5 separate regions of the Homo sapiens genome follow, and regions 2, 3, 4 and 5 are each linked to region 1. The links come from fine-mapping of genetic effects on gene expression. A gene starts in region 1. Each other region holds a variant in brackets. All regions are shown on one strand. Distances are from middle to middle.

Evidence for each region. PIP is the estimated chance that this variant, and not a neighbour inherited with it, causes the effect.
Region 2: its variant is the best candidate, but not a certain one, in a credible set for the expression of B3GALNT1 in CD4 T cells (CEDAR, PIP 0.84).
Region 3: its variant is the best candidate, but not a certain one, in a credible set for the expression of B3GALNT1 in T cells (TOPMed, PIP 0.54).
Region 4: its variant is the best candidate, but not a certain one, in a credible set for the expression of B3GALNT1 in whole blood (TOPMed, PIP 0.73).
Region 5: its variant is the best candidate, but not a certain one, in a credible set for the expression of B3GALNT1 in tibial artery (GTEx, PIP 0.50).

What each region holds. Positions count from the first base shown.
Region 1 is chr3:161,103,230-161,108,229 of GRCh38, reverse strand. B3GALNT1 (beta-1,3-N-acetylgalactosaminyltransferase 1 (Globoside blood group)) reads left to right here and starts at 2,881. Exons shown (of 5, transcript NM_003781.4): 1 at 2,881-2,995; 2 at 3,824-3,911; 3 at 4,713-4,803. LOC124909453 (a long non-coding RNA gene) reads right to left here and starts at 3,549. Exons shown (of 2, transcript XR_007096147.1): 1 at 3,345-3,549; 2 at 1-1,659. RefSeq lists silencers at 2,977-3,066, 3,077-3,326.
Region 2 is chr3:161,157,143-161,162,142 of GRCh38, reverse strand. The region is part of intron 1 of LOC124906300 (a long non-coding RNA gene); the gene reads right to left. Among named protein-coding and RNA genes, the nearest start is that of B3GALNT1, 54 kb to the right of the region's middle. The variant T/AT (reference allele first, on the strand shown) is at 3,044.
Region 3 is chr3:161,144,931-161,149,930 of GRCh38, reverse strand. It overlaps LOC124906300 (a long non-coding RNA gene), which reads right to left and starts at 2,819. Exons shown (of 3, transcript XR_007096148.1): 1 at 1-2,819. The variant A/G (reference allele first, on the strand shown) is at 2,854.
Region 4 is chr3:161,277,619-161,283,252 of GRCh38, reverse strand. All of the region lies in intron 1 of LOC105374187 (a long non-coding RNA gene), which reads right to left. Among named protein-coding and RNA genes, the nearest start is that of NMD3, 59 kb to the right of the region's middle. The variant C/T (reference allele first, on the strand shown) is at 3,122.
Region 5 is chr3:161,074,484-161,080,831 of GRCh38, reverse strand. It overlaps PPM1L (protein phosphatase, Mg2+/Mn2+ dependent 1L), which reads right to left. Exons shown (of 4, transcript NM_139245.4): 4 at 1,930-6,348. Among named protein-coding and RNA genes, the nearest start is that of B3GALNT1, 28 kb to the left of the region's middle. The variant T/G (reference allele first, on the strand shown) is at 3,079.

The DNA.
Region 1 (5,000 bases):
ACAGGAAGTGCTGGAGGAAAATGCTGAAGAGAATGAAAGATGTGGATAGTCAAGTAAGAAATATAACAAATCATCAATTAGAAATACACCCCAGCTGCTTCTAAGCATAATAAATTGTCAAAGCTTTCCATCAAGTGGAAGAAGACAGTCACAGTCAGATTTTGGAGAAGGCACATATTGAAAAATTCAACTGAACAATTAGTAGAAGCATTTCCTGTAGATTAGAAACCCTGCCCAGAACCACATCTGCCTTGAAACATATATAGCACATATTACGAAAGAACTGTTGTTACATTTCAATTTTCATCTGCAGACAAATTTAAGGTTAAAATGTAATATAGCCTTAAAGGTGACTGCTAGTTCAAACTTATCATTAGGCATATGGCTTCCTAACTCTTGATTATATGTTCGGAAAATTGCTAGGAAGGTTTCCATCTTATTGGTCAGATGGTATGTGAGTGTGACATATAACTCTTTGATGTGTGCTTTTCTTCTGGAATTTGTAGATAGTGCAGGATACTTAAATTTATTTTGCTTTTGTGAAGTAAGCAAATAACCTGACTTTAAACCTCAGTAAGGCTATTCAGCTAAATTCCATATATATCTATTGAAGATATATTACAGCAAGGCAGTGCGGTAGGGCCTGTCTCTTCCCTCAGGTTGCTGATAATCTCATGGCAGAGACATCTGTAAACAAGTTCTGAGGCAAGTGAGTGCTCACAGAATTATAAACAGGTTTGGGTAGTTTGGGGAGAGAAGTGAGTAAGAACAATAGCTGCCATCAGATATCATAAATTTGAAGTTTGATGATTTACTTTCAAGAATAAGGTTCCTGCCACTTAGTTTAGCTAGTTCTGGCCACATTATCTGCAGCTCCTTCCATCAAGAGGCAGAGACTATTTGCCTGCCCCTTGGATTTGGAGAGGCCTCACAATTTGCTTTGATTTGTAGAATTTGGCATATATGATCTTGTGTGACTCCCAAGTCTAGGCCTTAAGAAATTTTACAGCTTCTGCCTGCTCTCTTCTGGATGTTGCCCACAGACCAAAAACATAGCCTACTGCAGGATAAGAGGCCACATGGAGCCAACAGCAGACACATGAGTGAGGCCACCTTGGACTTTCAGCTTAGCTGATTCTCCAGTTCAGGGATCAGCAAACTACAGCCTGTAGGCCATAGCCTGCTTCTGTATGGCCCTTGAGCTATGAATAGCTTTGGGTTTTTAATAGTTTATAAAAATTAAATAAAAAAGAATATGTGACAGAGACAAAGTCTAAAATATTTACTATCTGATCCTGTTTTACAGAAAACTTGGCCAACCCCTGCTACAGCTGAATGTATCTATACGAGTGAGCCAAATCAAAACCAGAGAGGAACCACATAACCAACCTTCAGAATTATGAGAAATATTAAATTGACATTTTTGCAAGCAACTATATTTTGGGAGAGTTCGATCTGCAGCAATAGATGACTCAATCACAAGCTGATAAATGCTACACAAAGAAAAAGGAGACTGCTTCAAAGGAAATAATCTCATAAAGGTTTTGGGCCTTTTTGTCTCACTTACTTCATTTAGGAGAATTTCTTACCCCAATCTGTTGTCCATGGCTCTGCTTTGCATTCCAGGGAAGTTTTGGCAGCTATGAGCACATATACCTGCTGGTTACTCAAAGGACATTCAAAACATTTTAAAAATGAGTATTGAAATACAACTTTTCTAAAATTTTAAGAAACGGAATTTGTAAAATATAGTATTAATGCCCTAAAGCATTCTTCCAAATAAGAGGTCTATTTTTTCAGCATATTAATCTATCTGCAGTGAAACCTGTCTGGTTTTGTTATTAATGGACCTCCTTGACTTAGTGAGGTGAACTGTCAGCCCAGGTAGGGTGAAGAATGGCTGTGATAAAGGCGTGCAGCAGGGCAGCAATCACTTTACCCTCTGCAAAGGACACAGCTACCTGCCAAGGCTGGAACCAGGAAAACAATCTCAACCATAATTTAGATCTGATTATTATAATTTAGATCTGATTATTTATGCAGTGTCAACTAAGTCCTTGACTTACACTGCTACTATCTAAACTTACTTTTGTTGTATATCCATTTTGATCTCTATATTCACCCCTATTATTTTCAGAGAACCTTCAAACTATCCTAAGTAATTTTGCAGAAAAAGGCTATAAGGAAGAAGCAGTCAGGCCAAAGAGTCAGTAAACAAAAAGAAATGGTGGGCCACGTTTAGTCTTGATGCAAATGTGTGGGTTACAATCAGGGGTGGTGCTCATGGCTGAGCTTGGTAGTGGTTAAATACATGATCCAGACCCACTTGATTTTGAGGAAAGGACCAGTACAATCAATACTGCACATCTTGGTAAAAGGAGTTTGAGGAGATGGATCTGGGAGTTTAGGTCAGCTATGCTCAGGTGTACAAAAGCAACTCCCTGGGACTCCCATCCATACACAGGCCATTGAAACCTGACGTGTCTCTCTTACCCCCATTCCATTCCCCATCGATTCCGGAAGAAGAACTGGCATTTCTTCTGAGACAGCAAAGAACTCCTCCTAAGATTTCCTCTTTCCTAATTAGTTCTGTATGAAGTTTAACAAGAAAATCCCTCCAGGGCCGCCTCGAGGCCATGCACTCACGCAGTTTGGAAAGACGACCAGGGAAAAAGGATCTCAAACAAAAATTCTAGCTCGACGTCTGCCACTAAGTTGTCTAATTTTGGCCAGCATCAACTAAAGGCATACATAACACGGCCGTGCTCGGAATGCAAGGTGACCGCGAGGACCCAGAGGGCGCGCCATGCGAGCTCACAGGGCTGGGGGCCGCCTGGGCCCGCGCGTGCAGCCAGGGGCTTCCGGCCGCGGCCCTGGCGCGTGGTCTGCGCGCGCCCGGCCGTGCGTGCGGATGCGGGGAGGCTGCGTGTGTGCGCAGGGAGAGAACGCCGGCCACCTTCCCGCTTCCGAGCTGGGTGCGCGCCGAGCACAGGAGGTGAGTGAGAAGGGCGGCCCTGCAGGGTCTCCGAGGCGGTTGAGTCCTGCCACTGGGTGGAGGGTATAGCCACCGGACCCGCCTTTCCCGGAACGCGCCGTCCTCGGAAACGCCTAGACCCCGGCAGCTAGGCCGGGAGGCACCGCCCACTCCTCTAGAGCGGAGCGTGGCCCAGGTTGAGCCGCCGCACCGTGGGTCTCGGGTCTCGGTGACGAGCAGCTGCCCGCCTCCGGTGAGCGCGGGAGAAGGGGCCCAGTGGGGCAGTGGGCGACGCGGAGGGCCCAGGCCCAGGCCGCGGCCGCGCCGCATCCGCTGGTTGTCCACCTTGCCTTGCCCCAGGGTGCAATACCTGCCTTGCGTCGCCCGTGCCGCTCCAGCCACCGTCAAATCCGGGTAGCGACCCGGGGCGTTTGCAGCGGTGCCGAGGAAGAGGACGGGAACGGTGTTACGGTATTGGTGGGCCCCTAACAGGCCTGCGGCGAACGCTTTCCCGGAGCGCTAGGGAAGGGCCCCGGCGCAGGGATGTCGGAGGGATTGGGAAGGAATGTGAAACTAAGTGGGGAATGTGGAGAACGGGCGGAGAGAGAAGGAAATCCCACGGGGCTAGGGCTACAGGATTCCTACAGGCAGTGTTAAGGAACATACAGGGCGTTTTAAAAAGATTCCTAGAGGTGCAACGGAGTCTCACTTTTCCAAGCAGTAAGGAATGATGCCATCCTCAAGTACGGGTAGTCTTTGAATTCAGTATCCGTTCGCCTTCTTAATGTTGGATTTAGGAGGGAGATTTGCAGGGCTTTCATGATTTTGTTTCCTCTGCGTTTTGCACAGATTGCCTGCGTTTAGGAGGTGGCTGCGTTGTGGGAAAAGCTATCAAGGAAGAAATTGCCAAACCATGTCTTTTTTTCTGTTTTCAGAGGTAAGGAAAATTTGGGTTTGCAGTGTTCAACTGGGAACAAGTTTTTTAGCTTCTCCCAGGAGGCTTAAGCAAAAGAAGGGCGCTGAATTTGTGCTCTTAGTATGCATGTGTCGATGCCTGATAAAAGCACAAATTACTGAACGCGTATCAGTCTGGAGAACAGAATCGTTTATTACTAACAGATAAGAGACTATGACTTTTTTCCCCTCATAGACTAAAATGTTCGTTCAAATGAATGGCCATTGGATAACTCCAGACCTGAAAATAAACACTGTTGTCAAAACAGCATCCAGGCCGGGCGCGGTGGCTCACGCCAGTAATTCCAGCACTTTGGGAGGCCGAGGCGGGCAGATCACCTCAGGTCGGGAGTTCGAGATCGGCTTGGCCAACGTGGTGAAACCCCGTCTCTACTAAATATACAAAATTAGCTGGGTGTGGTGGCACACACCTGAAATCCCAGTTCCTCGGGGGGCTGAGGCAGGAGAATTGCTCGAACCCGGGAGGCAGAGGTTGCAGTGAGCCGAGATTGTGCCATTGCACTCCAGCCTGGGCAACAGAGTGAGACTCCATCTCCAAAACAAACAAAAAACAAAAAAACAGTGTCCAAGTATAATTTCAGATTAGAGCATGAGGTGATTTGAAAGCGAGAAGAGAGGATCAAGGCTTTTCCAAAAATGAAAAAAGTGTTGATATGTAATAAATGGCTCCAAAAACAACTTGCTAAGTATACAACATTGATTTTAGATGTCATAATTCCTAATGTTATGACTCATATATATTTTTTTCTGTTCTTCTGTTCAGTAGTTCACAACAGATCTGAGTGTTTTAATTAAGCATGGAATACAGAAAACAACAAAAAACTTAAGCTTTAATTTCATCTGGAATTCCACAGGTAAGTTCATCTACTTTTAACTTATAAATTATCCTAATTGGTTAAAAATGCCCATAATAATGCCCTTTACAAGGTTTTAAGTATCGTTGATGCAGCCACGAAGTTTGTTGTATATTCTAGTACGATTCTTTCATCAGAGGATTTGAAGAAATTCAAGAGTGAAGCTCTACTAAGCCATTTTGGATAATATATTTTTT
Region 2 (5,000 bases), 54 kb before region 1:
TTAAAGAGAAGGTACTTAGCCTCACTTTATCTTCTTCAGATGTCAGACTTCTGCCTCGTATGTACGCGGAGGGCCAGAAGATTGAATAATTTCCCCTTCCCTTCATTCTTTTTAATAATTCACATGATATAAGCAAAAATCTTTATACTCTTTCCTCTTCCTTTTTCTCTGTTGTTGTTTATTGCAGTAGTCTTCAAACTTCTTTCCCCGCGAAAAAAACATTTGAAAAATCCTTTTGTGGGCGGCGGTGGCTGCGCTTGGCGCACGGGGTGGGAGTGGAGCCCAGGTCAGGAGCAGGCACCGCCGCCAGCGACTGGGAGCATGTTGGCCACCAGCTCGCCGCCATCAGGGCCGCCACCTCCGCCCTAGCCGCCTGGCTTCATGTTGCCACCGCTGGGAGATGGCCTGGGCGCTGGGACCAGTGCCGGTCGAAGTTAGGAAAAATTACAGTGGTAATCCTTCACCAAAAATATTTTTAAGAATCTGATCGTTGACAACACTATTAGGTCCTCCTTCAATTTTATTGCAAGTAAGATATTTTTGCAATAAATATTTTACTTGCGATATTTTTCTGACTTGGAAAGAAATGTTTAAACCCAATTATTAGATAGACAATTTCTGGAAGATACACCTAAAAAGCTTAACCAATATTTATCAAATAACTACCAATTACACTTATTTTATTTAGAAGTATCTTATGTTTCAAGCTAAAATTGTACATAAATGATTTTAAAATAACCCCATAAAATTGGAAATTTCACATTATAATTTTTAAACTATTGACTGCAGAAATATTCATACTAAATTTCAATATTTGATAGACTCAGTGTCTTAAAAAGATAACAGATGGACAAGAAGACGGATACTGAAAAAATATATGTGTATAGGTGTATATTCATTCTATTTATCTATATGCAATTTCATTTAACAGCTGAAAACAAGATTGTAATTATGCATTTGACAGAATTAGAAAGGCAAGTCATCATCTGCAAAAGAAGAGCTAAACTTAATCGAATAAAAAACATTTAATTTGGGTCATTACGTCCTGATTGCATTTGGGGAACATTTATCATAACTATGGCTTCTAAGACTACAGTTTAATTTTATACAAATTAACATTCTATTTTGTGCAAATTAACAACAAAATAAAAGAAAGTGTTGGGCCCCAGCAAAGCAGATCTAAAGAGTGTTTCAGTGACTGCTAAGTGCATTACTGCTATAAAATTCAAAATATAGCCCAGTTAGTTAATATATATCTAATTAGTACATTTTATGATAAATAAACAAATAAGCAGAGAAGTGGTTAATGAGTCACAGTCAGCAGTAGACTTAGCTCCAAGTAAAAATAAATACGGATTTGGAATAAGCAATAGCTTTTTGTTAAAAGACCTCAAAAAAGGATTCTACTACCAGTCTAAATAAATGGTTAAGAGAAAACACTAACTCACCCTCAATATATGTTCCTTTTCTTTGACGATATAACATGGATCTCTTAAAAGTAAACATGAAACTTTTTTGCTTCCTTTCTCTTGAAATTTTGAAAAACGTGCAAAAGAAACACACAAAGACACAAAGGAGTGGAAGTAGCCACCAAGCTAACCAAGAGTGGTGTACAATTAGAGAAAGATTTCTTCTTAGCAAATGGTTATTTCCCAACTTGGTCTCTTCAAATCTTTGAGTATTCAAGTTAGACTAGGCCCAGAACTTTGTTATGGGTTTGTCACCTAGGTAAGATAACGTACCAGAGTCTCCATATTCTGCCTATAATCTTTGCTGTGCATTCAAGAGAACTTCCCACAGAAGAAATACTTCTTTGACAAGAGTCAGGGAATGGAAGAGACTAAATTGTTGAATGAAAGTTGTCATTTATCTTGCTGCTCCAGTTCCTAATACATCTGAATTCAGAATAGATTATTTTTAATACTATGCTTTACCCTCAACTGAAATATATATAAGACAGTGAAAGACACCAAGTTTTCCCATGTGTTTATGGCATCTTGATTAAAGAAATCTTCCCCAACACCAATAACCTAAGATAGTTTGTTGTTTGGTTCTCCTGAGGTTTTACACTCTGGTAAAGCACCACAGTAAGATCCAGGATGGGGGAGAGGTATACTTGGAAAGTCTGTTTTGAAAGAGGAGATGAGAACGCAGAGAAAGGCAAGAGTCCTCTAACTCAAACCCAGAGCAGGCAGATCAATTTTAAGAAAGAAAGGCTCCATATTGAAGCTGGGGGTCTGGACATTGATTCCTTTAAAAGTTCCCAGGCTAGTGTAGCCCTTGGAACATTTTTATGCATCCGTAAATGTACTCATATCCCAGTTTGAAAATCACTGTTGGCCGGGCGCGGTGGCTCACGTCTGTAATCCCAGCACTTTGGGAGGCCGAGGCGGGCGGATCACGAGGTCAGGAGATCGAGACCATCCTGGCTAACGCGGTGAAACCCCATCTCTACTAAAAAAAAAATACAAAAAATTAGCCGGGCGTGGTGGCGGGCGCCTGTAGTCCCAGCTACGCGGGAGGCTGAGGCAGGAGAATGGCGTGAACCCGGGAGGCGGAGCTTGCAGTGAGCCGAGATCGCGCCACTGCACTCCAGCCTGGGCGACAGAGCAAGACTCCGTCTCAAAAAAAAAAAAAAAAAAAAAAAAAGAAAATCACTGTTATTTAGGACGTGTTAATGATGATTAAATTTTCCAGTTAGTTCATGGATTGAAGAATATATAAAGAAATTTTGACAGAACTAGAAGAGTAAGCATGCTGTAGGAAATCCTTGGCTTAGAGCTGTATAGTCTTATGACATTGCTTCTAGATCAATACAGAAGCAGGAGTTTGCAACCTCTCCTATTGGAAGGGGTAGCTGCAATTGTGTATGGGAAAGGTGCACCATGCAGAGATAGGGAAGCTTCAGGTGTATGAGAAGGGTGGGTGAGCATAGTGAAGCAGACAGTTTTTGGAGTACCATTCAGCTCACAACACTATGTTTCTTTGAAATATAGGGTTCAGCACCTGGAAGTCATATTCACTTGTCCCCCCCCAAAAAAAA[T/AT]AGATAAATGATTCTGAAATTGATACCTGGCCTAAGCTGAGCCAACCATCTTCCAAGGAATTTGAAATCTTGGAATAAACATCTGCCAGAACATGAGTTGGTAAAGCTTAGTCACCTTAATGGCTGAATACCAGAAGGAAGGTCTCCTATTCCTTGAAGCTCCCTGATTTTTGAAATTCCAGAGACAAAGGTTTTCAGTAGTTCCTTCTATATCATGCAATAATGCAGTGGCCTCATAGTATCATTTTTTAAAATGTAGTTTTATATTAATAAATAGATCAATGAAAGAATGAAGTCCAGAAATAGACCCAAATCATATGAGATTTTAATATATTATAAAGCTTGTATTTCAAAAATTAGGGAGAAAATAATCAATAGATGGAGTTGAAACAACCTCATTCCCTTTGCCAAAACAAATTTAAGATAAATCAAATATCTGAATTTTAAAAATTCATAAATCAGGCCAAAAGGATTTGCCGGGTCTGTTGTCTTCCAATATTACATTTGAGGTGTAATTTGGGAGTATGCCCTTCCTTAGGGTGCACAACTCTTGCAACTGACTTCTTGCTGGTGCAGATTTGGAGCCTGGGATTATTTTAAGGGTTGAAGTTCATAAACTGCTGCTTTACAGAATGTAGAAATGTTTGGTATGGTATCTGTCCAAAAATTTCTGGTCTACTGTAAAAACCATAACCAAAGTCTTTATCTAGACATTTTTAAAAAATGTTTCTTTCCTTTATTTAAAAGAAAAAATTATTTAGGGACACAGTGTGAGGAAGGCACACCTTCCATGGCTTTGGAGAGGATGCAGTTTCCAGAATGAATCACTAGGGCAGAAACATGCAGGGCAGGTAGGGGGAGATGCTTGGAAGTTAGGGGAGGGGCTGCATCCTCTAGCACCTCTGAACACAGAGCTCACTCAATCCATACATAATTTTTTGTTAAGATTCTGGGGCTGAAGAGTAGAGGACACAATTTTATGTATAGAGAGATTCTTTTTCATTTTTTTAAAAATAGAGATGGGGTCTCACTATGTTGACCAGGCTGGTCTTGCACTCCTGGCCTCAAGCGATCCTCCCAAAGTGCTAGGGTTAAAGGCATGAGCCACTGAGCCTGGCCAGAGGACACAATTTTTAACATATATGCTTATCATTTACATACTGGTCTCTCCATTCTACATCCCTCTTGCCTATAGCTACCTTCAGACCATTTAGAAGATAACACCCTTAATCTAATCTTTGCTGGTGAGTTTGTTCCCATTTTCTAGTTAAATACTCTTAAGAGAATATACTAAAAAAAAGAGTTGGGGCACATTCTTCAACAAGGCTACTGCTTCACAGTCACCAAATACTTAAAATTGCTTCACTCTGAGATATAGAAGCAGTTGGCTTTTTCAACACCAAAAGAGAGTGCTCAGTAATTTGGATTGCATGCTGCAACATAAAGCACTCTTCTGGATCTCCAGGCTGAATCACATTTAGGGATGATAATAATGATGATGATGATGATGATTTTTGCCAATACTACTTCATAGGTGGGTTTATGTTTTTCCAGGTAAATTTTTTTTTAAAGAGACAGTGTCTTGCTTAGTTGCCCAGGCTGATCTTGAACTCCTGGGCTCAAGTCATCCTCTGCTCCCACTTCTGCCTCCTAAAGTGCTGGGATTATAGTCGTGAGCCACCAAGCCCAGCCTGGTTTCTTTTGCCCTTTTGTAATGCTATCTGCCATTGATTCTCAATGTTTAGATCCAGTAATTCACTAGGATTGCAAAAGATGTTGATATTCAAATTTTCTTCTTCAGTAATTTGATGGACTACTTACATCAAGAGAAACTTTACCTCACCTACTATTTGGTATCTTGGTGGCACAGTTTACATAGAAACGGCAGGACAAATGCTTGATTGTTTTCTTTCATTTGACAGTTCTCAAATAAAAAGTTGGTTTCTGGCTTCTTCCG
Region 3 (5,000 bases), 42 kb before region 1:
AGTATTAGCTACTGATTGGCTATACATTGTTCTTTGTGCCACAAATTCCAGGAACAGGAAGATAATGAGTGAGGCAGCTAATCAGGAACAAAATGACTTTAAACAATTCCCTCGTGGCATGGATGGGGAGGCATGGCTGAAGACCCATGCTAATGGCTCTCTGGAGACATTATCTGCATATCTCACAGAGCTCAGATTGCTCAACAGCAGGGACCACAAACTGAAATATCTACAGTATCTAGGAGGGTAAGAAAAATAAATAAAGTGAGCTGGGTGAATAGAAACCTTTGCCCTACCACCCATTTTCATCCCTCTCCAAAACCACATGCACATGCAAATGTCAGACTCACCAAATTGTACATACTAAACATGCACAGTTTTTTATTTTATATCAATTATACTTCAATAAAGCTGTAAAAAAAAAAAAAGTACTACTCATTTTGTTTCCAGAAAGGGGTCCTGATCCAGACCCCGAAAGAAGGTTCTTGGCTCTCACGCAAGAAAGAATTCAGGGTGAGTCCACAGAGTAAAGTATAAGCAAGTTTATTAAGAAAGTAAAGGAATAGAAGTATAGCTACTCCATAGATAGAGCGGGGCAGTCCTGAAAGCAAGAGGAAGAACATGTCCACTTTAGGTACAATGCTTGTTTACAAGATAATAAAACAAAAAATGATGAGATATACTCTACTACAAGGGCTTGTGACAAAGAATGGTTAATCTTTGTGTAACTACTGTCTTCCACAAGAATGTATATTATTATTTTAAAGCAAAACTTATTCTTAAACTAAGAATGCTTTTGTTCTTAAGATATTGTAACATCAGGACATTTCCTGGGTCTGTTAAGTCCTGGGTCTGTTCAGTAAACATTATTAATCTGTTCCCTTAACCACAAATATCCTTTGACTAAGAATGCCTAACCTCATAGAAAGGCAGTCCAGCAGGTCTCAGCCGTATTTTACCCATCCCCTATTCAAGAAGGGGTTGCTCTGGATTAAACACCACTGACATATTCTCCCCTCCCTTTTCCAAGGGGATACTTAATCCTAAGAGTTGCAGAAGGACAAAAATTCATTTTTCTATAGCTTCTTTGGGCTGTGTAGAGGTGATAATATTCCTGCCTAACTCTTAGGTTCTCTTGTATTTAGGGTAGAAAGGAGCTCAGTCAGGAAGCATCAGTATAGTGATGGCCATTCATAACTCTGGGTCCTGACAAAAGGAAATATCTGGAAGACAATAAGTGTTCAATTATAGAAAATGTTGAGTAAGCTTATCTTGCATTCTTACTTAAAGAGTACGACAGCAATATACTCAACAACAGTAAATAAAATAAGTATCCCAAGTAAACTAAATGAGAAGGCTTTCCATGAATTGGGCACCAAGCTGATATGGGGTTGCTAGCCAATTTCAATATATGCTCAGAGTTAGAATACTGATACAGATTTTTACATTACCCATCCCTCGTTTCTTCTACGCAGCTGGCAGAGATCAAAGGAATAAGCAGGGTCAGTCTACATTTCAGAAAAATACACAAAAACAATGGACAAGACTAGAATTTAACAACAGGTGTACCACAGTTTTTGAAACATAATTTATCTCTTTCCAGTCATCATTTTTATTAAAAACAAATCAAGGTAGGACTGATTTGTTTGCAAAATAACCTTTAGTCATATTATACTTGACCTGATTATTTTCATAAAGTGCAACAAGAATAATTATTTGCCATATAGGCTCCTTTTTAAATTGCCTTTGATGAAACTTTGTTTCATACAAAATCTCAGATAGACCTTTCAAAACCTTGAGTCTAGCCATGGATTTGTGCTTGAAAATACCCGTATGGGTTAGGTCAATTTCTCTCTTCTTGAGGTCCCAAGATAACTTGGGGCTCCTGGGCCAGTAAGAAAGTGACATTCTTTACTTACCACAGGTCAGGAACCCTGTACAGGGACTGTATAGACAAGATATGAGGCCAGTTTTTCCCCAGAGTCTTTTATTGGCCCTATAAGTCAACTTTGAATCCTTATAGCAGTCTGTTCATATTTGAAGGCATGGCCTTCTAGTCAAAGCCTTGGTAAACTAACCAGTGTCTCCAATTGTGTCCTCTTATAAAAGAAAACAGATTCTTATTGCACTTGATAAGTTAAGTGTAAACCAAAAATAAAATGATAAGTCCCTCAACCATCTGAACTGACCCCTCCTCTCAGCCAAGGGCATTCCAATGTTAACCTGAAAAACTAGTTCACGCCATGATGGGAAGTGGGAGTCAGACTTGCCTCATTATCATTAATATCAACATAGACCTTAAGACTCGTAGAAGAGACTAATTAAGTCTAATAGGAAACATTTACAATCTATTCTCTCTGAAGCATGCTACCTGGAGGTTTCGTCCACATGATAAAACCTTTGTCTCCACAACCCCTTATTGTAACTCAGACATTCCTTTCTATTGATTCCAGGTCTTTAGACAGTAACTCAACCAACTGCCAATTCGGAAATATTTAAATCTGCCTATTACCTGGAAACTCCTGCTTCTGGTTGTCCTGCCCTTCTGAAGCAAACCAATGTACATCTTACTTGTATTGATTGATGTCTTACGTTTCCCTAAAATGCATAAAACCAAGTTGTAGCCTGACCACCTTGAGCACCAAAGGCCGTACATGGGCATGTCCTTAACCTTGGCAAAATGAACTTCTAAGTTGATTGAGACTTGCCTCAGATACTTTTTGGTTTACAAATGAATACTCATAAATTTTGGAGGAATTGGGTAGAGAGAAAGAAATATGCTCTTAATTGGATTATACTTTACTCAATTGTCAAAAGCTATAAATAGATCAAAAGAAAAATTTTCTTGACTCT[A/G]AAAAACAAAACAGAATCAGCAATGTTTTAAACAAAAAGTCATAAAAAGATAATTTTGTCTTTTATTAGTTCAGTCTATGCAATTAATTCCTGTTTTGCTTGATATTTATGAATACATTCATTTTCCAAGAGAGTCTTGGAAGGTTTTTTTCTCTATATTTTAATGGCACATTTTTCATACTTATCAGAGACCTGCATTTAAGAGTACTCATCAGAGTCCTACAGCTGATGATAAACTGCCTTTTGAAAAGGATTAAAACAAGACAATTGTCTACGGATGACTAAGAGTCTTAGGGCAGCCACAGTCAAAGACACAATTGATGAAAAAATTTGGTTACTTCTGTGGCACACAATAATTTAGCATAACAATTATTATTTTATTACTGATAATGTACACTAAATCATATTAGAATTATAGGAGTTTTGCATAATTTTGGAACACATACCAATAATACATTTATACAAATACAGCCCAAAGAAAGACAAATATTATTTTATATTTGACTATGCTTTCTGTGTGACCTTAATATATCAAATAAGCAAAATACATCATTTTTGGACTTTTGGGAACTAATATCTAGAAGGATTAATCAGGTCACAAAATGACTATATTTAGAATTTGATTTTGGGATGTTTGTTAAATATCAAAGGTTTAAAACACTTGACATTAAAAAATAGAATCTCAAGTCATTTATTTAGACAAAATAATAACTCAAAGATTTTTTAAAGGCAAAACCCTGGCCAGGCACGGTGGCTCACACCTGTAATCCCAGCAGTTTGGGAGGCTGAGGCGGGCGGATCACAAGGTCAGGAGATCTAATCCATCTTGGCCAACACAGTGAAACCCAGTCTCCACTAAAAATACAAAAAATCAGCCAGGCGTGGTGGCAGGAGCCTGTAGTCCCAGCTACTCAGGAGGCTGAGGCAGGAGAATGGCGTGAACCCAGGAGGCGGAGCTTGCAGTGAGCCGAGACTGCGCCACTGCACTCCAGCCTGGGCGACAGAGCGTCTCCATCTCAAAAAAAAAAAAAAAAAAAAACAAACAAAAACAAAGGCAAAACCCTTTACTCATTGATAGAAGGAAGCCTTAGCTTTCCAAACAATTTGTCTCTTTTCTCTCCCTTCATTTTCCTGTAGTTTATTCAAAAGGCAAACACAAATTTTGTATTATCTCTCAACATTACATGAAAATATTGTTCAAGAGAGAAAGCCAAATTTCACCTTTGCATTAGTGTACTATTAATGTCAAACCCAATTCTTAATAAAGCCTTATAGGCAAATCTATTCAATTTTAAATAGTTTGACCATTAGGTAACATTCTCACAAACCTTTTATTTTTATTTATTTATTTTTTGAGACGGAGTCTCGCTCTGTCACCCAGGCTGGAGTGCAGTGGCGCGACCTCGGCTCACTGCAAGCTCCACCTCCTGGGTTCACGCCATTCTCCTGCCTCAGCCTCCCGAGTAGCTGGGACTACAGGCATGTGCCGCCACACCTGGCTAATTTTTTGTATTTTTAGTAGAGACGGGGTTTGACCGTGTTAGCCAGGATGGTCTCGATCTTCTGACCTCGTGATCCACCCACCTCAGCCTCCCAAAGTGCTGGGATTACAGGCGTGAGCCACTGCGCCCAGCAAACACAAACCTTTTATAATCCTTCAAATTTTTTTGTTAATGAGCAGATTAATGCTCCAACGAAAACCCTGTTGTGCTTTTATTCCAATATTCAATTTACAGAAAAACTGAATATCCCTTAAACTCTAGGCAATATGTTCACACACAGAATTTCTTCTACTTCTTCTTCCTCTTTTTTTTTTTTTTTTTTTAATAGAGATGAGAGTCTTGCTATGTTGCCAGGCTGGTTTCAAACTCCAGGGCTCAAGCAATCATCCCACTTCAGCCTCCCAAAATGTTGGGATTACAGGTGTGAGCCACTGTGCCCAGCCAGGGATTTCTTTTACAAGATTAATCTTTCACGAACCTTCTACAACTTGCTCAAAATTTCAGCTTTATTCTATCTAACCTAAAACAATCATTTAACCCTATAAACTAGGCAGGAAAAAAATGCACATTCTTATGCTTTCTTATAATTTTTTTTTTACCAAAGACACATTCTACTTTCTTTACACACCTTGCACGTAAAACTGT
Region 4 (5,634 bases), 170 kb before region 1:
TAGTGATGTTGAGCATTTTGTACATGTTTGTTGGCCATTGTATATCTTCTTTTGAGAATTGTCTATTCATGTCCTTAGCCTACTTTTTGATGGGATTGTTTGCTTTTTTTCTTGCTGATTTGTTTGAGTTCCTTGTAGATTCTGGATATTAGTCCTTTGTCAGATGCATAGTTTGCAAAGATTTTCCCCCACTCTGTAGGTTGTCTGTTTACTATGCTGATTATTTCTTTTGCTGTGCAGAAGGTTTTTAGTTTAATTAAGTCACATCAATTTATCTTTGTTTTTGTTGCATTTGCTTTTGGGTTCTTGGTCATTAACTCTTTGCCTAAGCCCATGTCTAGAAGGGTTTTTCTGACATTATCTTCTAGAATTTTTATGGTTTCAGGTCTTAGATTTGAGTCTTTGATGCATCCTGAGTTGAATTTTGTATAAGGTGAGATATGAGGATCCAATTTCATTCCTCTACACGTAGCTTGCCAATTATCCCAACACTATTTGTTGAATAGCGTGTTGTGTTGGTTAATATTAAGTGTCAACTTGATTGGATTGAAGGATGCAAAGTTGTTTCTGGGTGTGTCTGTGAGGGTGTTGCTAGAGGAGATTAACATTTGAGTCAGTGGACTGGGAGAGGCAGACTCACCCTTAATCTGGATGGGCACCATCCCCCCGGCTGCCTGCACAGCAAGATAAAGCAGGCAGAAGAAGGTGGAATGAACAGACTTGCTGAGTCTTCCAATTTTCACCTTTCTCCCTTGCTGGATGCTTCCTGCCCTTGTACATCAGACTCCAAGTTCTTCAGCTTTTGGACTTTTGGACTTACACCAGTGGTTTGCCAGGGGCTCTTCGGCCTTCAGCCACAGACTGAAGGCTGCACTGTCAGCTTCCTTACTTTTGAGGCTTTGGGACTCGGAGTGGCTTCCTAGCTTCTCAACTCGTAGACAGCCTATAGTGGGACTTCACCTTGTGATGATGTGAGTCAACTCTCCTTAATAAACTCTCTTTCATATGTACATATATACTGTTAGTTCTGTCCCTCTAGAGAACCCTGACTAATACACGGTGTCCTTCCCCCAATTTATGTTTTTGTTTGCTTTGTTGAAGATCAGTTGGCCGTAAGTATTTGGCTTTATTTATGGATTCTCTAGTCTGTTTAATTGGTCTATGTGCCTATTTTTATGTCAGTACTTATGCTGTTTTGGTGACTATAGCCTTATAAGTATAGTTTGAAGTTGGATAATGTGATGCCTCCAGATTTGTTCTTTTTGCTTAGTCTTCCTTTGGCTATGCAGGTCTTTTTTGGTCCATATGAACTTTAAGATTGTGTTTTCTAGTTTTGTGAAGAATGATGATGGTATTTTCATGGAAATTGCATTGAATTTGTAAATTGCTTTTGGCAGTATGGTCATTTTCATAATATTGACTCTACCCATTCACGAGCATGGGATGTGTTTCCACTTGTTTGTGTAATCTACGATTTCTTTCAGCAGTGTTTTGCAGTTTACCTTATACAGATCTTTCACTTCCTTGGTTAGGTATATGCCTAGGTTTTTTTTTTCTTTGTTTGTTTGTTTGTTTTTGCAGCTATTACAAAAGGGGTTGAGTTCTTGATTTGTTTCTCAGCTTGGTCGCTATTGGTGTATAGCAGTGCTACTGATTTATGTACATTGATTTTGTATCCCGAAACTTTACTGAATTCGTCTATCAGTTCCAGAAGCTTTTTGGATGAGTCCTTTGGGTTTTCTATGTATACGATCTTATCATCTATGAACAGCGACAGTTAGATTTCCTCTTTACTGATTTGGATGCCCTTTATTTCTTCCTTTGGTCTGATTTCTCTGGCTAGGACTTCCAGTACTATGTTAAATAGAAGCAGTGAAAGTGAGCATCCTTGTCTTGTTCTAATTCTCAGGGGGAATGCACTCAACTCTTCCCCATTCAGTATAATGTTGGCTGTGGGTTTGTCATAGGTGGTTTTTATTACTTTAAGGTGTGCCCTTTCTATGCCGATTTTGCTAAGGTTTTTAATCATAAAGGGATGCTGGATTTTGTCAAATGCTTTTTCTGCATCTATTGAAATGATCATGTAATTTTTGTTTTTAATTCTGTTTATGTGGTGTATCACATTCATTGGCTTGCATATGTTAAACCATCCCTGCATGCCTTGTATGAAATCCACTTGATCATGGTAGATTATCTTTATGCTGTTGGATTTGGTTAGCTAGTATTTTGTCGAGATTTTTTGCATCTATGTTCATCAGGAATATTGGTCTGTAGTTTTCTTTTTTGGTTATGTCCTTTCATCGTTTTGCTATTAGGGTGATACTGGCTTCCTAGTTTGATTTGGGGAAGATTCCCTCTTTATCTTTTGGAATAGTGTCAACAAGATTGGTACTGATTCTTCTTTGAATGTCTGATAGAATTCAGCTATGAATCTGCTAATCCTGGACTTTTTTTCTTTTTGGTGTTTTTTTAATTGCCATTTCAATCTTGCTGCAAAAAAATTTTTTACTAAAAAATTTTAGGCAAATTTTCGCTAAAAAACTTGTTGTCAGCCAGGCTCACACCTGTAATCCCAGCACTATGGGACGTCAAGGCAGGTGGATCACGAGGTCAGAAGTTCGAGACCAGCCTGGCCAACATAGTGAAACTCCATATCTACTAAAAATACAAAAAATTCGCCGGGCGTGGTGGCATGTGACTGTAATCCCAGCTACTCAGGAGGCTGAGGCAGAAGAATCACTTCAACCCAAGAGGCAGAGGTTGCAGTGAACTGAGATCACACCATTGCACTCCAGTCTGGGCGACAGAGCAAGACTCCATCTTGAAAAAAAAATTAAATTGTTGGCATGGCCAGGTGCAGTGGCTCATGCCCGTAATCCCAGCACTTTGGAAGGCCAAGGCAGGCAAATCACCTGAGGTCAGGAGTTTGAGACCAGCCTGGCCAACATGGTGAAACCCCATCTCTACTAAAAATACAAAAATTAGCAGGGCATGGTGGTATGCACCTGCAATCCCAGCTACTTGGAAGGCTGAGGCATGAGAATCATTTGAACTTGGGATGCGGACATTGCAGTGAGCCAGGCTGTGCCACTTCACTCCAGCCTGGATGACACAGCAAGAC[C/T]GTGTCTCAAAAAATTAAAAAAAAAAAAACTTTGCGAATTTTTTTTCAACTCTAAACAGAGTTTTAGAGTTTCTATTTCTTCCTGGTTTAATCTAGAAGGGTTGTATTTTTCTAGGAGTTTATCAATCTCCTCTAGGTTTCCTAGTTTGTGTGCATAAAGGAGTTCATAGTAGCCTTGTATGATCTTTTGTATTTCTGTGGTATCAGTTGTAATAGCTTCCATTTTGTTTCTAATTGAGTTTATTTGGATCTTCTCTTTTCTTGGTTAATCTTGTAATGGTCTATCAATTTTGTTTATCTTTTCAAAGAACTAGCTTTTTGTTTCATTTACCTTTTGTATTTGTTTTTTGTTTCAATTTCATTTAGTTTTGCTCTGATCTTTGTTATTTCTTCTCTTCTTCTGGGTTTGGGTTTGATTTATTCTTGTTTCTCTAGTTCCTTGAGGTGTGACCTTGGATTGCCCATTTGCGCTCTTTCAGACTTTTTGATGTAGGCATTTAATGCTATGAATTTTCCTCTTATCACTGCTTTTGCTGTATCCCCAAGGTTTTAATAGGTTGTATCACTATTATCGTTTAATTCAAAGAAACTTCTTAATTTCCATCTTGATTTCATTGTTGACCCAATGATCATTCAGGAGCAAATTATTTAATTTCCATATATTTGCATGGTTTTGCAGGTTCCTTTCAGAGTTGATTTTCAATTTTATTCCACTGTGGTCTGAGAAAGTACTTCATATAATTTCAATTTCCTTAAATTTATTGAGACTTTTCTTGTGGCCTATCATATGGTCTATCTTGGAGAATGTTCCATGTGCTTATAAACAGAATGTATATTCTGCAGTTGCTGGGTAGAATATTCTGTAAATATCTGTTAAGTCCATTGGTTCTAGAGTATAGTTTAAGTCTGTTGTTTCTTTGTTGACCTTCTGTCTTGATTACCTGTCTAGTACTGTCAGTAGAGTATTAAAGTTCCCCACTATTATTGAGTTGCCATCTATCTCATTTCTTAGGTCTAGTAGTAATTGTTTTATAAATTTGGGAGCTCCAGTGTTAGGTGCATATATATTTAGGATTGTCATATATTCCTATTGGACTAGACTCTTATCATTACATAATGACCCTCTTTGTCTTTTTGAGATATTGTCACTTTAAAATCTGTTTTGTCTGATATAAGAATAGCTACTCCTGTTCACTTTTGGTGTTCATTTGCATGGAATGTCTATTCCCACCTCTTTACCTTAAGTTTATGTGAGTCCTTGTGTGTTAGGAGAGTGTCTTGAACATAGCAGATACTTAATTGGTGAATTCTTATCCATTCTGCCATTCTATATCTTTTAAATGGAGCATTTGGCCAGGTGCGGTGGCTGACGCCTGTAATCCCAGCACTTTGGGAGGCCGAGGTGGGCAGATCACCTGACATCAGGAGTTTGAGACCAGCCTAACATGGAGAAACCCCGTCTCTTCTAAAAATACAAAATTAGCCAGGCGTGGTGGTACATGCCTGTAATCCCAGCTACTTGGGAGGCAGAGGCAGGAGAATCACGTGAGCCAGGGAGGTGGAGGTTGCAGTGAGCTGAGATCGTGCCATTGCACTCCAGCCTGGGCAACAAGAGCGAAACTCTGTCTCAAAAAAAAGTGGAGCATTTAGGCAATTTCCATCCAGCATTAGTCTTGAGATGAGGTACTATTCTATTCATGGTGCTAGCGGTTGCCCGAATACCTTTTTTTTTGTAATAGTGTTATTGTTTTATAGGTCATGTGACAATTATCCTCTAAGAACATTCTATTTTGGTGTATTTTGAGGATTTGTTTCAAGATGTAGAGATGTAGAGCTCCTTTTAACAGTTCTTGTAGTGCCGGCTTGGTAGTGGCAAATTCTCTCAGCATTTTTTTGCCTGAAAAGGACTGTATCTTTCCTTCATTTATGAGGCTTAGTTTTGCTGGATACAAAATTCTTGGCTGATAATTGTTTTGTTTAAGGAGGCTAAAGATAGGAACACAATCCCTTCTAGCTTGGAGGGTTCCTGCTGAGAAATCTGCTGTTAATCTGATAGGTTTTCCTTTATAGGTTACCTGATGCTTTTGCCTCACAGCTCTTATGACTGTTTCCTTCGTTTTTACTTTAGATAATCCGATGACTATGTGCCTAGGTAATGATCTTTTTGTGATGAACTTCCCAAGTGTTCTTTCGGCTTCTTGTATTTGGATGTCCAGATCTCTGCCAGGGTCCATCTCACAGACCCCAGCTGCACAACAGATGAATAACGTACTCAGACACTGATATTCAGTGAAAGAGTGGGCTTAGGGGGTGAGGCCACTGACCAAAAGAGTTGTAGCAGCCGAGACCCTGATTAACTGGCCCTGCTGGAATTTATTCAGCATATATTAAATGACAAAGGCTTTGAGTCAACATCACTAGAGGTTAACTAACCTGGTCCCCTCCCCCCAAGAGAGCCATCCTGCCCGCAAATGATCAAAAGTTAATTTTAGGACCACATGAGTAAACAAGTT
Region 5 (6,348 bases), 28 kb after region 1:
GCCACTGAACCAACCCTGTGACCACAGACTTCTTGCCCCTGCATATGTGAGTTCACCACCATGGTGGGTGCAGTGGTCTGTTACAGCTGAGGGCATCCAAAGTTTAGGAACATACGAAACAGTTTTCCTCTTCCTGAGGGTCAGCGCCAATGATGAGCGGGGCCGAAGTGAAGAGATAAACCCAATTTCCTATGAGGCAGATAGAAAGCAGCTTGTCCGTGACACAGGAGCTCCATGCTCTGGGATGCATCTTGTTGGAGAATGGATCCCAGCCTGAGTGAGCAGCCCACACTGATGGATTGGGGATAGCGGAAATTAAAAAATGCCTTCTGTTCCTCTCTTCCTTGCTCCTCAATAGGTGATTACCTTCCATTTCAGGCAGCAGAGTCTGAATTCCTATCTGCTGGGAGCACGGAAAGGGGCACAGCATCCTGGTTACAAACCTGAAGAGTGTACACATCTCTCACTAATGAAGCCATCACAATATGGAGCCAGGTCTTCCCATTTGAACGAGGAGAGAGGACAGGGTCACATTTGCTTGCCTTTTACTGCTTACTCACTGAACAGCATCAGGGAAGGTTTACTTTATGAACCTGGCACAAAGTAGGTTCTGGGCCTGATGTTAACAACATTCACTCTGCCCTCTTCACAAATGAAAAGGTGGAAAATTTCTGACTTCTGGTAAATTCACATTGCAATGACTGTTTCTCTGGACACAGATCTTGCAGTTCTCCCATCCCTCAAGGCTGCTGTGATTGATTTATTTTAAAAAGTCTTTCACGGTTTCAGGAGAAGAACAGTTGAAAAACTATAGGTAGAGGTTAATTTGGTGTTCACAAATCAAGTGATAGTTCACTCTATCTCATAGCTCAATGAATAGTAGGATTAGGAGAGAAATTTAACTTCACTTTTGTAGTGAATCCCTTTTTATATGTACCTTTAAAACTTTTGCACTTCCTTTTTTTTCTCCTTTAGTGAACCTTAGCATATAAACAAGATAATTTTTTAAAAAAGCATTTTATAGGTAGAAATGAACTTTTATATTTATCAGACTTGAATTTGAAAGCAGGTAGAGTAGGCAATTGTTTCGTCTGCGTAACAAACTCCTTTTCTTTCCCCTTTTTTTTTAAAAAAAATTATTCTTTTTAAGAGATGGGGTCTCACTGTGTTGACCAGGCTGGTCTCAAACTCCTGAGCTCAAGTGATCCTTCTGCTTTGGCCTCCCAAAGTATAGGTATTACAGGTGAGAGCCACTATGTCTGGCCCCAACTTTTTCTAGAAAATTCTGAGAATTGTCTAATCCACGAACTCCATCTACATGGTTAGTCCAAGTCACCGTGTTACTACAATATGGCCTAAGCCATGAGTACTACCCACTCTTCAGAGTCTAGAATCCTGGAGAGAGTTTACCTCTATTTCATTCTGTCTCCAAATTTTACAGTATTTCTTCCTGCATTGAGTGAAAACCTTTGCAGATGGATATTCTGTTCTGAACACTTTTCTCAGAGGTGCATCATGCTGTGTTGCTGGAGCCTACATCTGTGTATAATGTAACCCTTGTTACCTTATAGTAATTACTATATAAACTTTGTCGATGTGTTACTATAAAGCTGGGTAAAAGTTGTGTTAGGTTTACAATAAACATTTTTTGTTGCATACATTGTATATATGTTTATAAATTGCCTTGTTTTGAACCAGAGCCAGGCTTATTCCCATTCCAAATGAAAGCACCAAAGTCTCAAAACCTCCTGCCTCTTGCTTCTGTTAGGCTTTGGTCTTATCCTCTACCCATGAATTGTTTCTTTGCTTTCCACATAGAACCCTAGCTCAAGCTACTCCAACTCAAAAGCATAGAGAAATTATAAAATTCAAGAACAGATGTTAGAATGGAAAATGAGTTTAACTTAAAAGAATACCAGCAGTCTCATGTTTAAAGTCTAACAACTTTGTGTTTATTTTTGCTTTAATCTTGTCATGGGTAAATTTTTAGCTGTTCATTTTTATACAACACCACAGGATCAGAGATAGCATGAACACATTAGTCTCTACAAGGCTAATTCTACCCGAGCACCCATCAAAGCGACCCAAATGACACGCCATGCATCTTGAGTGACCGTGCACTGCCATATACTCTGAGCTCTACTACAGGTAATGTTACACCAAATTGACATTGTAACTGTGTTTCAAATGTCTCTTAGAGACAAATACAGATCAGTAGGTATAATAACCTCTGAAGACTTCCAAGAGTAATGAGGTTTCGCCAAGCCTTGTTGTATTTATCATGGATGGTTTTCAGGAAATAACTTACGAGAAAGCCTGATTGATTTTACAGTCATTTTGACCTGTGATTTATTTATTAAGTACAATTTGAAGATTCCTAAAATAAAGTATTGCCAATAAATTATAGATCCTGTATCTCTTTATAAACAAATAATCCCTTGTGATTTTTAAAGTTGCAAGAAAATGCTGATGGAAAAATTTTCATGATGTTGAAATAGGTATAAATAAAAGCTTATACAAAGCCACTGTCTCAACATCAGCAGGATAAGAGAGAAGAACTTCTGAGACATTATACTGTTCCCCAAAAAAACACTACTTTTTTTCCTTCCCCTTTTTCTCTCCTCACTCTGTGCTTTCCTCCTTTCCATCCTTAATAACTGAGCTCCATCTATGGTTTTAATCTTACTAAATCAGAAATTGGCTTGGTTTCATTTGAATTTCCTTTTATATGTGCTCATGATTAAAAACAAAACAAAAACCCTACTTTTGATCACAATCAGATCTTTACCGTCTCTAACCATTTACTGCCTAGTATATGAAGTATATGAATTATTCTAATTCAATAGGATTCTAATGCAATTTGGCAATAACTAGTATTATTTGGATTTAAAAAGCCATTGGCATAAACAGAGATGTTTAGGGGAAATGAGCAGGCAAGCAAATAATTTAGAAAGAAGTGATGGTTTCTGTGGTTAAAAATAAAAGTCTGGGATTTAGTTTTTCTTTGCCATACAGAAAACAGATGTTGCTATTTTTGTTCAAAATACAAAACTTAAATTCCATGCTTAGACTCTGGAA[T/G]GTGTAAAGTAACTATGGATACCAAATTTATGATTTAAAAAAATGACATTTAGTCTTCTGTTCATATTTGAAATCAGGAAATAATTGTGCTCCTGAAATGTTAACTTTCTATATAACAGATTCACTGATTTACACTCAGGAACACTGAAGATACTCAGTTCTGGGCTGTCTTTGGGGGCATAAGGTTATTACACTAGTCTCTTGGGAACAAAAATAAAAATAGGCCATGGAGAGATGTTCTTGCTCCTCCCTTTTCTCCTTTTCTATAATCCTTCTCTTCCCCTAGAAAGATCTGGACAACCTGGCTTTCACCAGCCTACTGCTGCACCCTTGCACAGCTGCTGGCCCACTTGGGTGGAGGCTTCCAGTGGCACCCTCCACTGGGACAGTCCCACCCCCCTATCCTTGTCCCCAGAGGCTCCATGTCTCACTCCCCACCCCATCCTTCAGAAACTAGGTGAGCTAGTAAAATGGAGTAATTATCTTCTGCAGTTTGCTTGAGTGTTGGCAAGAAATTCCCAATCTCATATCACTTACTCTTATATGTGAGAAATAATTATTCTAATTCTGCCCTGTCCCAACAAATCTAAGCCCATTGGAAGAAATCATGAAGATAACAATTTTCATCCCATTGGGTCAATATTGAGTGTTATAATATCTCTGACACCCCAATAGGGTGTAAGCCCCAAGAAGGCAGTGATGGCGCCTGAGTGCTCACCATGGATACATTCACTCAGACACAGTCACTGCCTGGCACATAGTAGATGCTCACACAAAAAAGGAAAGAATAAAATATACAAACACACAGCAATAATAGTGACTTTCCCAATGTAATCTGTTCATAAGATTGATCAATCTGTTATAAATGCAATGATGCTTCTATTTATTTTTAAGAAAAAAACTCATACATTTTCCTTATACAAATTATGTATGTGAGCAGAGTTTACATTGGGGTCTTTTGGAATGAACTGTTTAATTACTATTTTCCAGGTTTGTCAGAATAATCATTTATCTGAACCCACTAAAATTTCTATTTGTCTTTCTCTCTCTTTTTTTTTTTCCTGGCTGCCCATGAGAATGCTGAGACATTATCAAATAGATTTCAATTCTGTGACCTGAACTGCAGTTGTGTAAGTGCTATAAATCAAAATCATTTGCTTTAGTAATTGAAGAGTAAACTGAAAGACAATATTGTAGATGTTAATGTTTCAATGTGAACATGTAATAAATTAAAAAGAACAAACACTGCTTTCTATAATAGAAGCAAAAGTTATGGGTTTTCTCCATGGTCATATTTTATTCATTATTCTACTTTCTGCACACTGTATATGCTTGAGATAAAACAATAACCAAGATGATAAATACATAAAGACTGTTAGTTGTAGTCTGGGAGCCTAAATCAGAGGAGTATTCTTGCTTAATGTCCCATGGTTCTAGCTTTTCTCCACAGAGCAGGATTTAGACGTTTTCATTACTACACGAAGAAGTCATCATTTGTCCTAAGATAGACAAATGGGAATTTAAAAGTTATACAAAAGACATCTTTTTCTTGGGTTAGAGATGTCTAATACATCATTTCTACAGGATTAATTTTTTTAATCATATGAGCAACCTGACCCATTGCATTATATGGATTAGAAAACTCTCTAAGAAGCAAGAATATCAAATCACTCTGTGGTTGGTTTTTGTGAAATTGTCTGTCGTAAATTGAGTACTCACTAGTATTCATGTTGGCATTTGCAAAATTACCACTATGTTAAAACTCGCTCCCAGTTGTACCTGTGACTGTGTTTATCTGACTTCAGTTTTACTGTCCACGATTTGGAACGTGAATGGAATCTGGGACAGTAAAGGTGTTGAGGAGAGCAATAAATGAGATCTCATGTATCCATTTTCATCAGAAAAAAATGGAATAGGGACTGCAATTTTACTAACTTCGCAAATAACTGAGAATGTTCATTTTCTCACTTCAATGTTATCTCCTTCACTAAGAGCGTAAGTACAGAAAGCATAATTCATGATGTAATAAACTATAACACCTCCTTTTCTTAATTTAAAATATTTCCTTTTATATTACTCTCCCTTGATTTGGGCTTCTGTATTTTCTTAAAAATGCTTTCCTTTACATTCTAATTTTGACCACACTGGAAACTGATTTTACAATTTTTTATTAAAAAGTGTTCCAAACCATTTTTCTTAAATGTGATTCTGCCCGTGCCATCAGTCCTACAAAAGGAAGCTTTAAAATTAAAATGCTGTCTTCATTAACAAATAAGCAAAGCATTAACCAATACTCTAAGAGACAAGCCCATTTTTTGAATGGTGAAAAGTGGTAACAACTGCCTTTTCTTCATCTATGTGCAGGTGTCAGAAATTACTATTAAACACAACCTATATATAGTAAAAATCTGATAATCCACATTTCTTATAAGCTACTTTTTACATTTTTAATGTCTGGGTATCCTAAAGGGGTTTTTCCCTGATACTTGACTATTACATCCGCCTTTGCTTCTGCATGAACACGTTTTACATCGTGAATTATCTAATTAATATAGAAATATTTTGAGATAATGCATGATATCATATTTAATTTATGAACTGCCTCATGACAAAAGGTAATGAGAGCTGATACAATCCCTCTCCTGAAGTGGCAGCGAGTAACCCGGGCAGGCTTTGCTCTGGGTCACTCAGCCCTCTCTCCACCACAATCTGCCACCAGTGCCCTTACAGTAATCTGCTTGTGCTCAATGTCCTCGGAGGTTTTTGAGATTAACTTGGATTTGGCAAATGTTAGGTGGGATTTTGTGTTTAAATAATGCAAGGTTATAGGACTTCAAGAATAAATGAAACCACATCTCTAAATACAGTCTATGCCTTTGCTGCATGCTTGCTTTTTGGTGGAGCTTTGAACAGGGAAACTGTCTGTGATGATTTGTTAAAATGAATACTTGCTACATGCTCTCCTCAAAGTCCTTAACTTGGATTTATTAAAGCAGTTGTACGTATGATGCTGTGGTTATTACTAAACACATAAAAATTATCAATAATCAACCCTAGCCTCAACAGTTTGCTGTTCAACAGTGGTAAAAATAACAAATAGACAAAGCATTAACATTACTAAGGATCAGCAAATTTACATATTAGAAAAAATGTTTAGAAATGCATCTATTGGAAGCTTCATGGTATCAACTGCCCCCTGCCCTTTGCAATCCGCCACCTAGCCTAAGAGATCTTACTTTTAGTTTTTTAAAATATTTTGGATAATGTGCA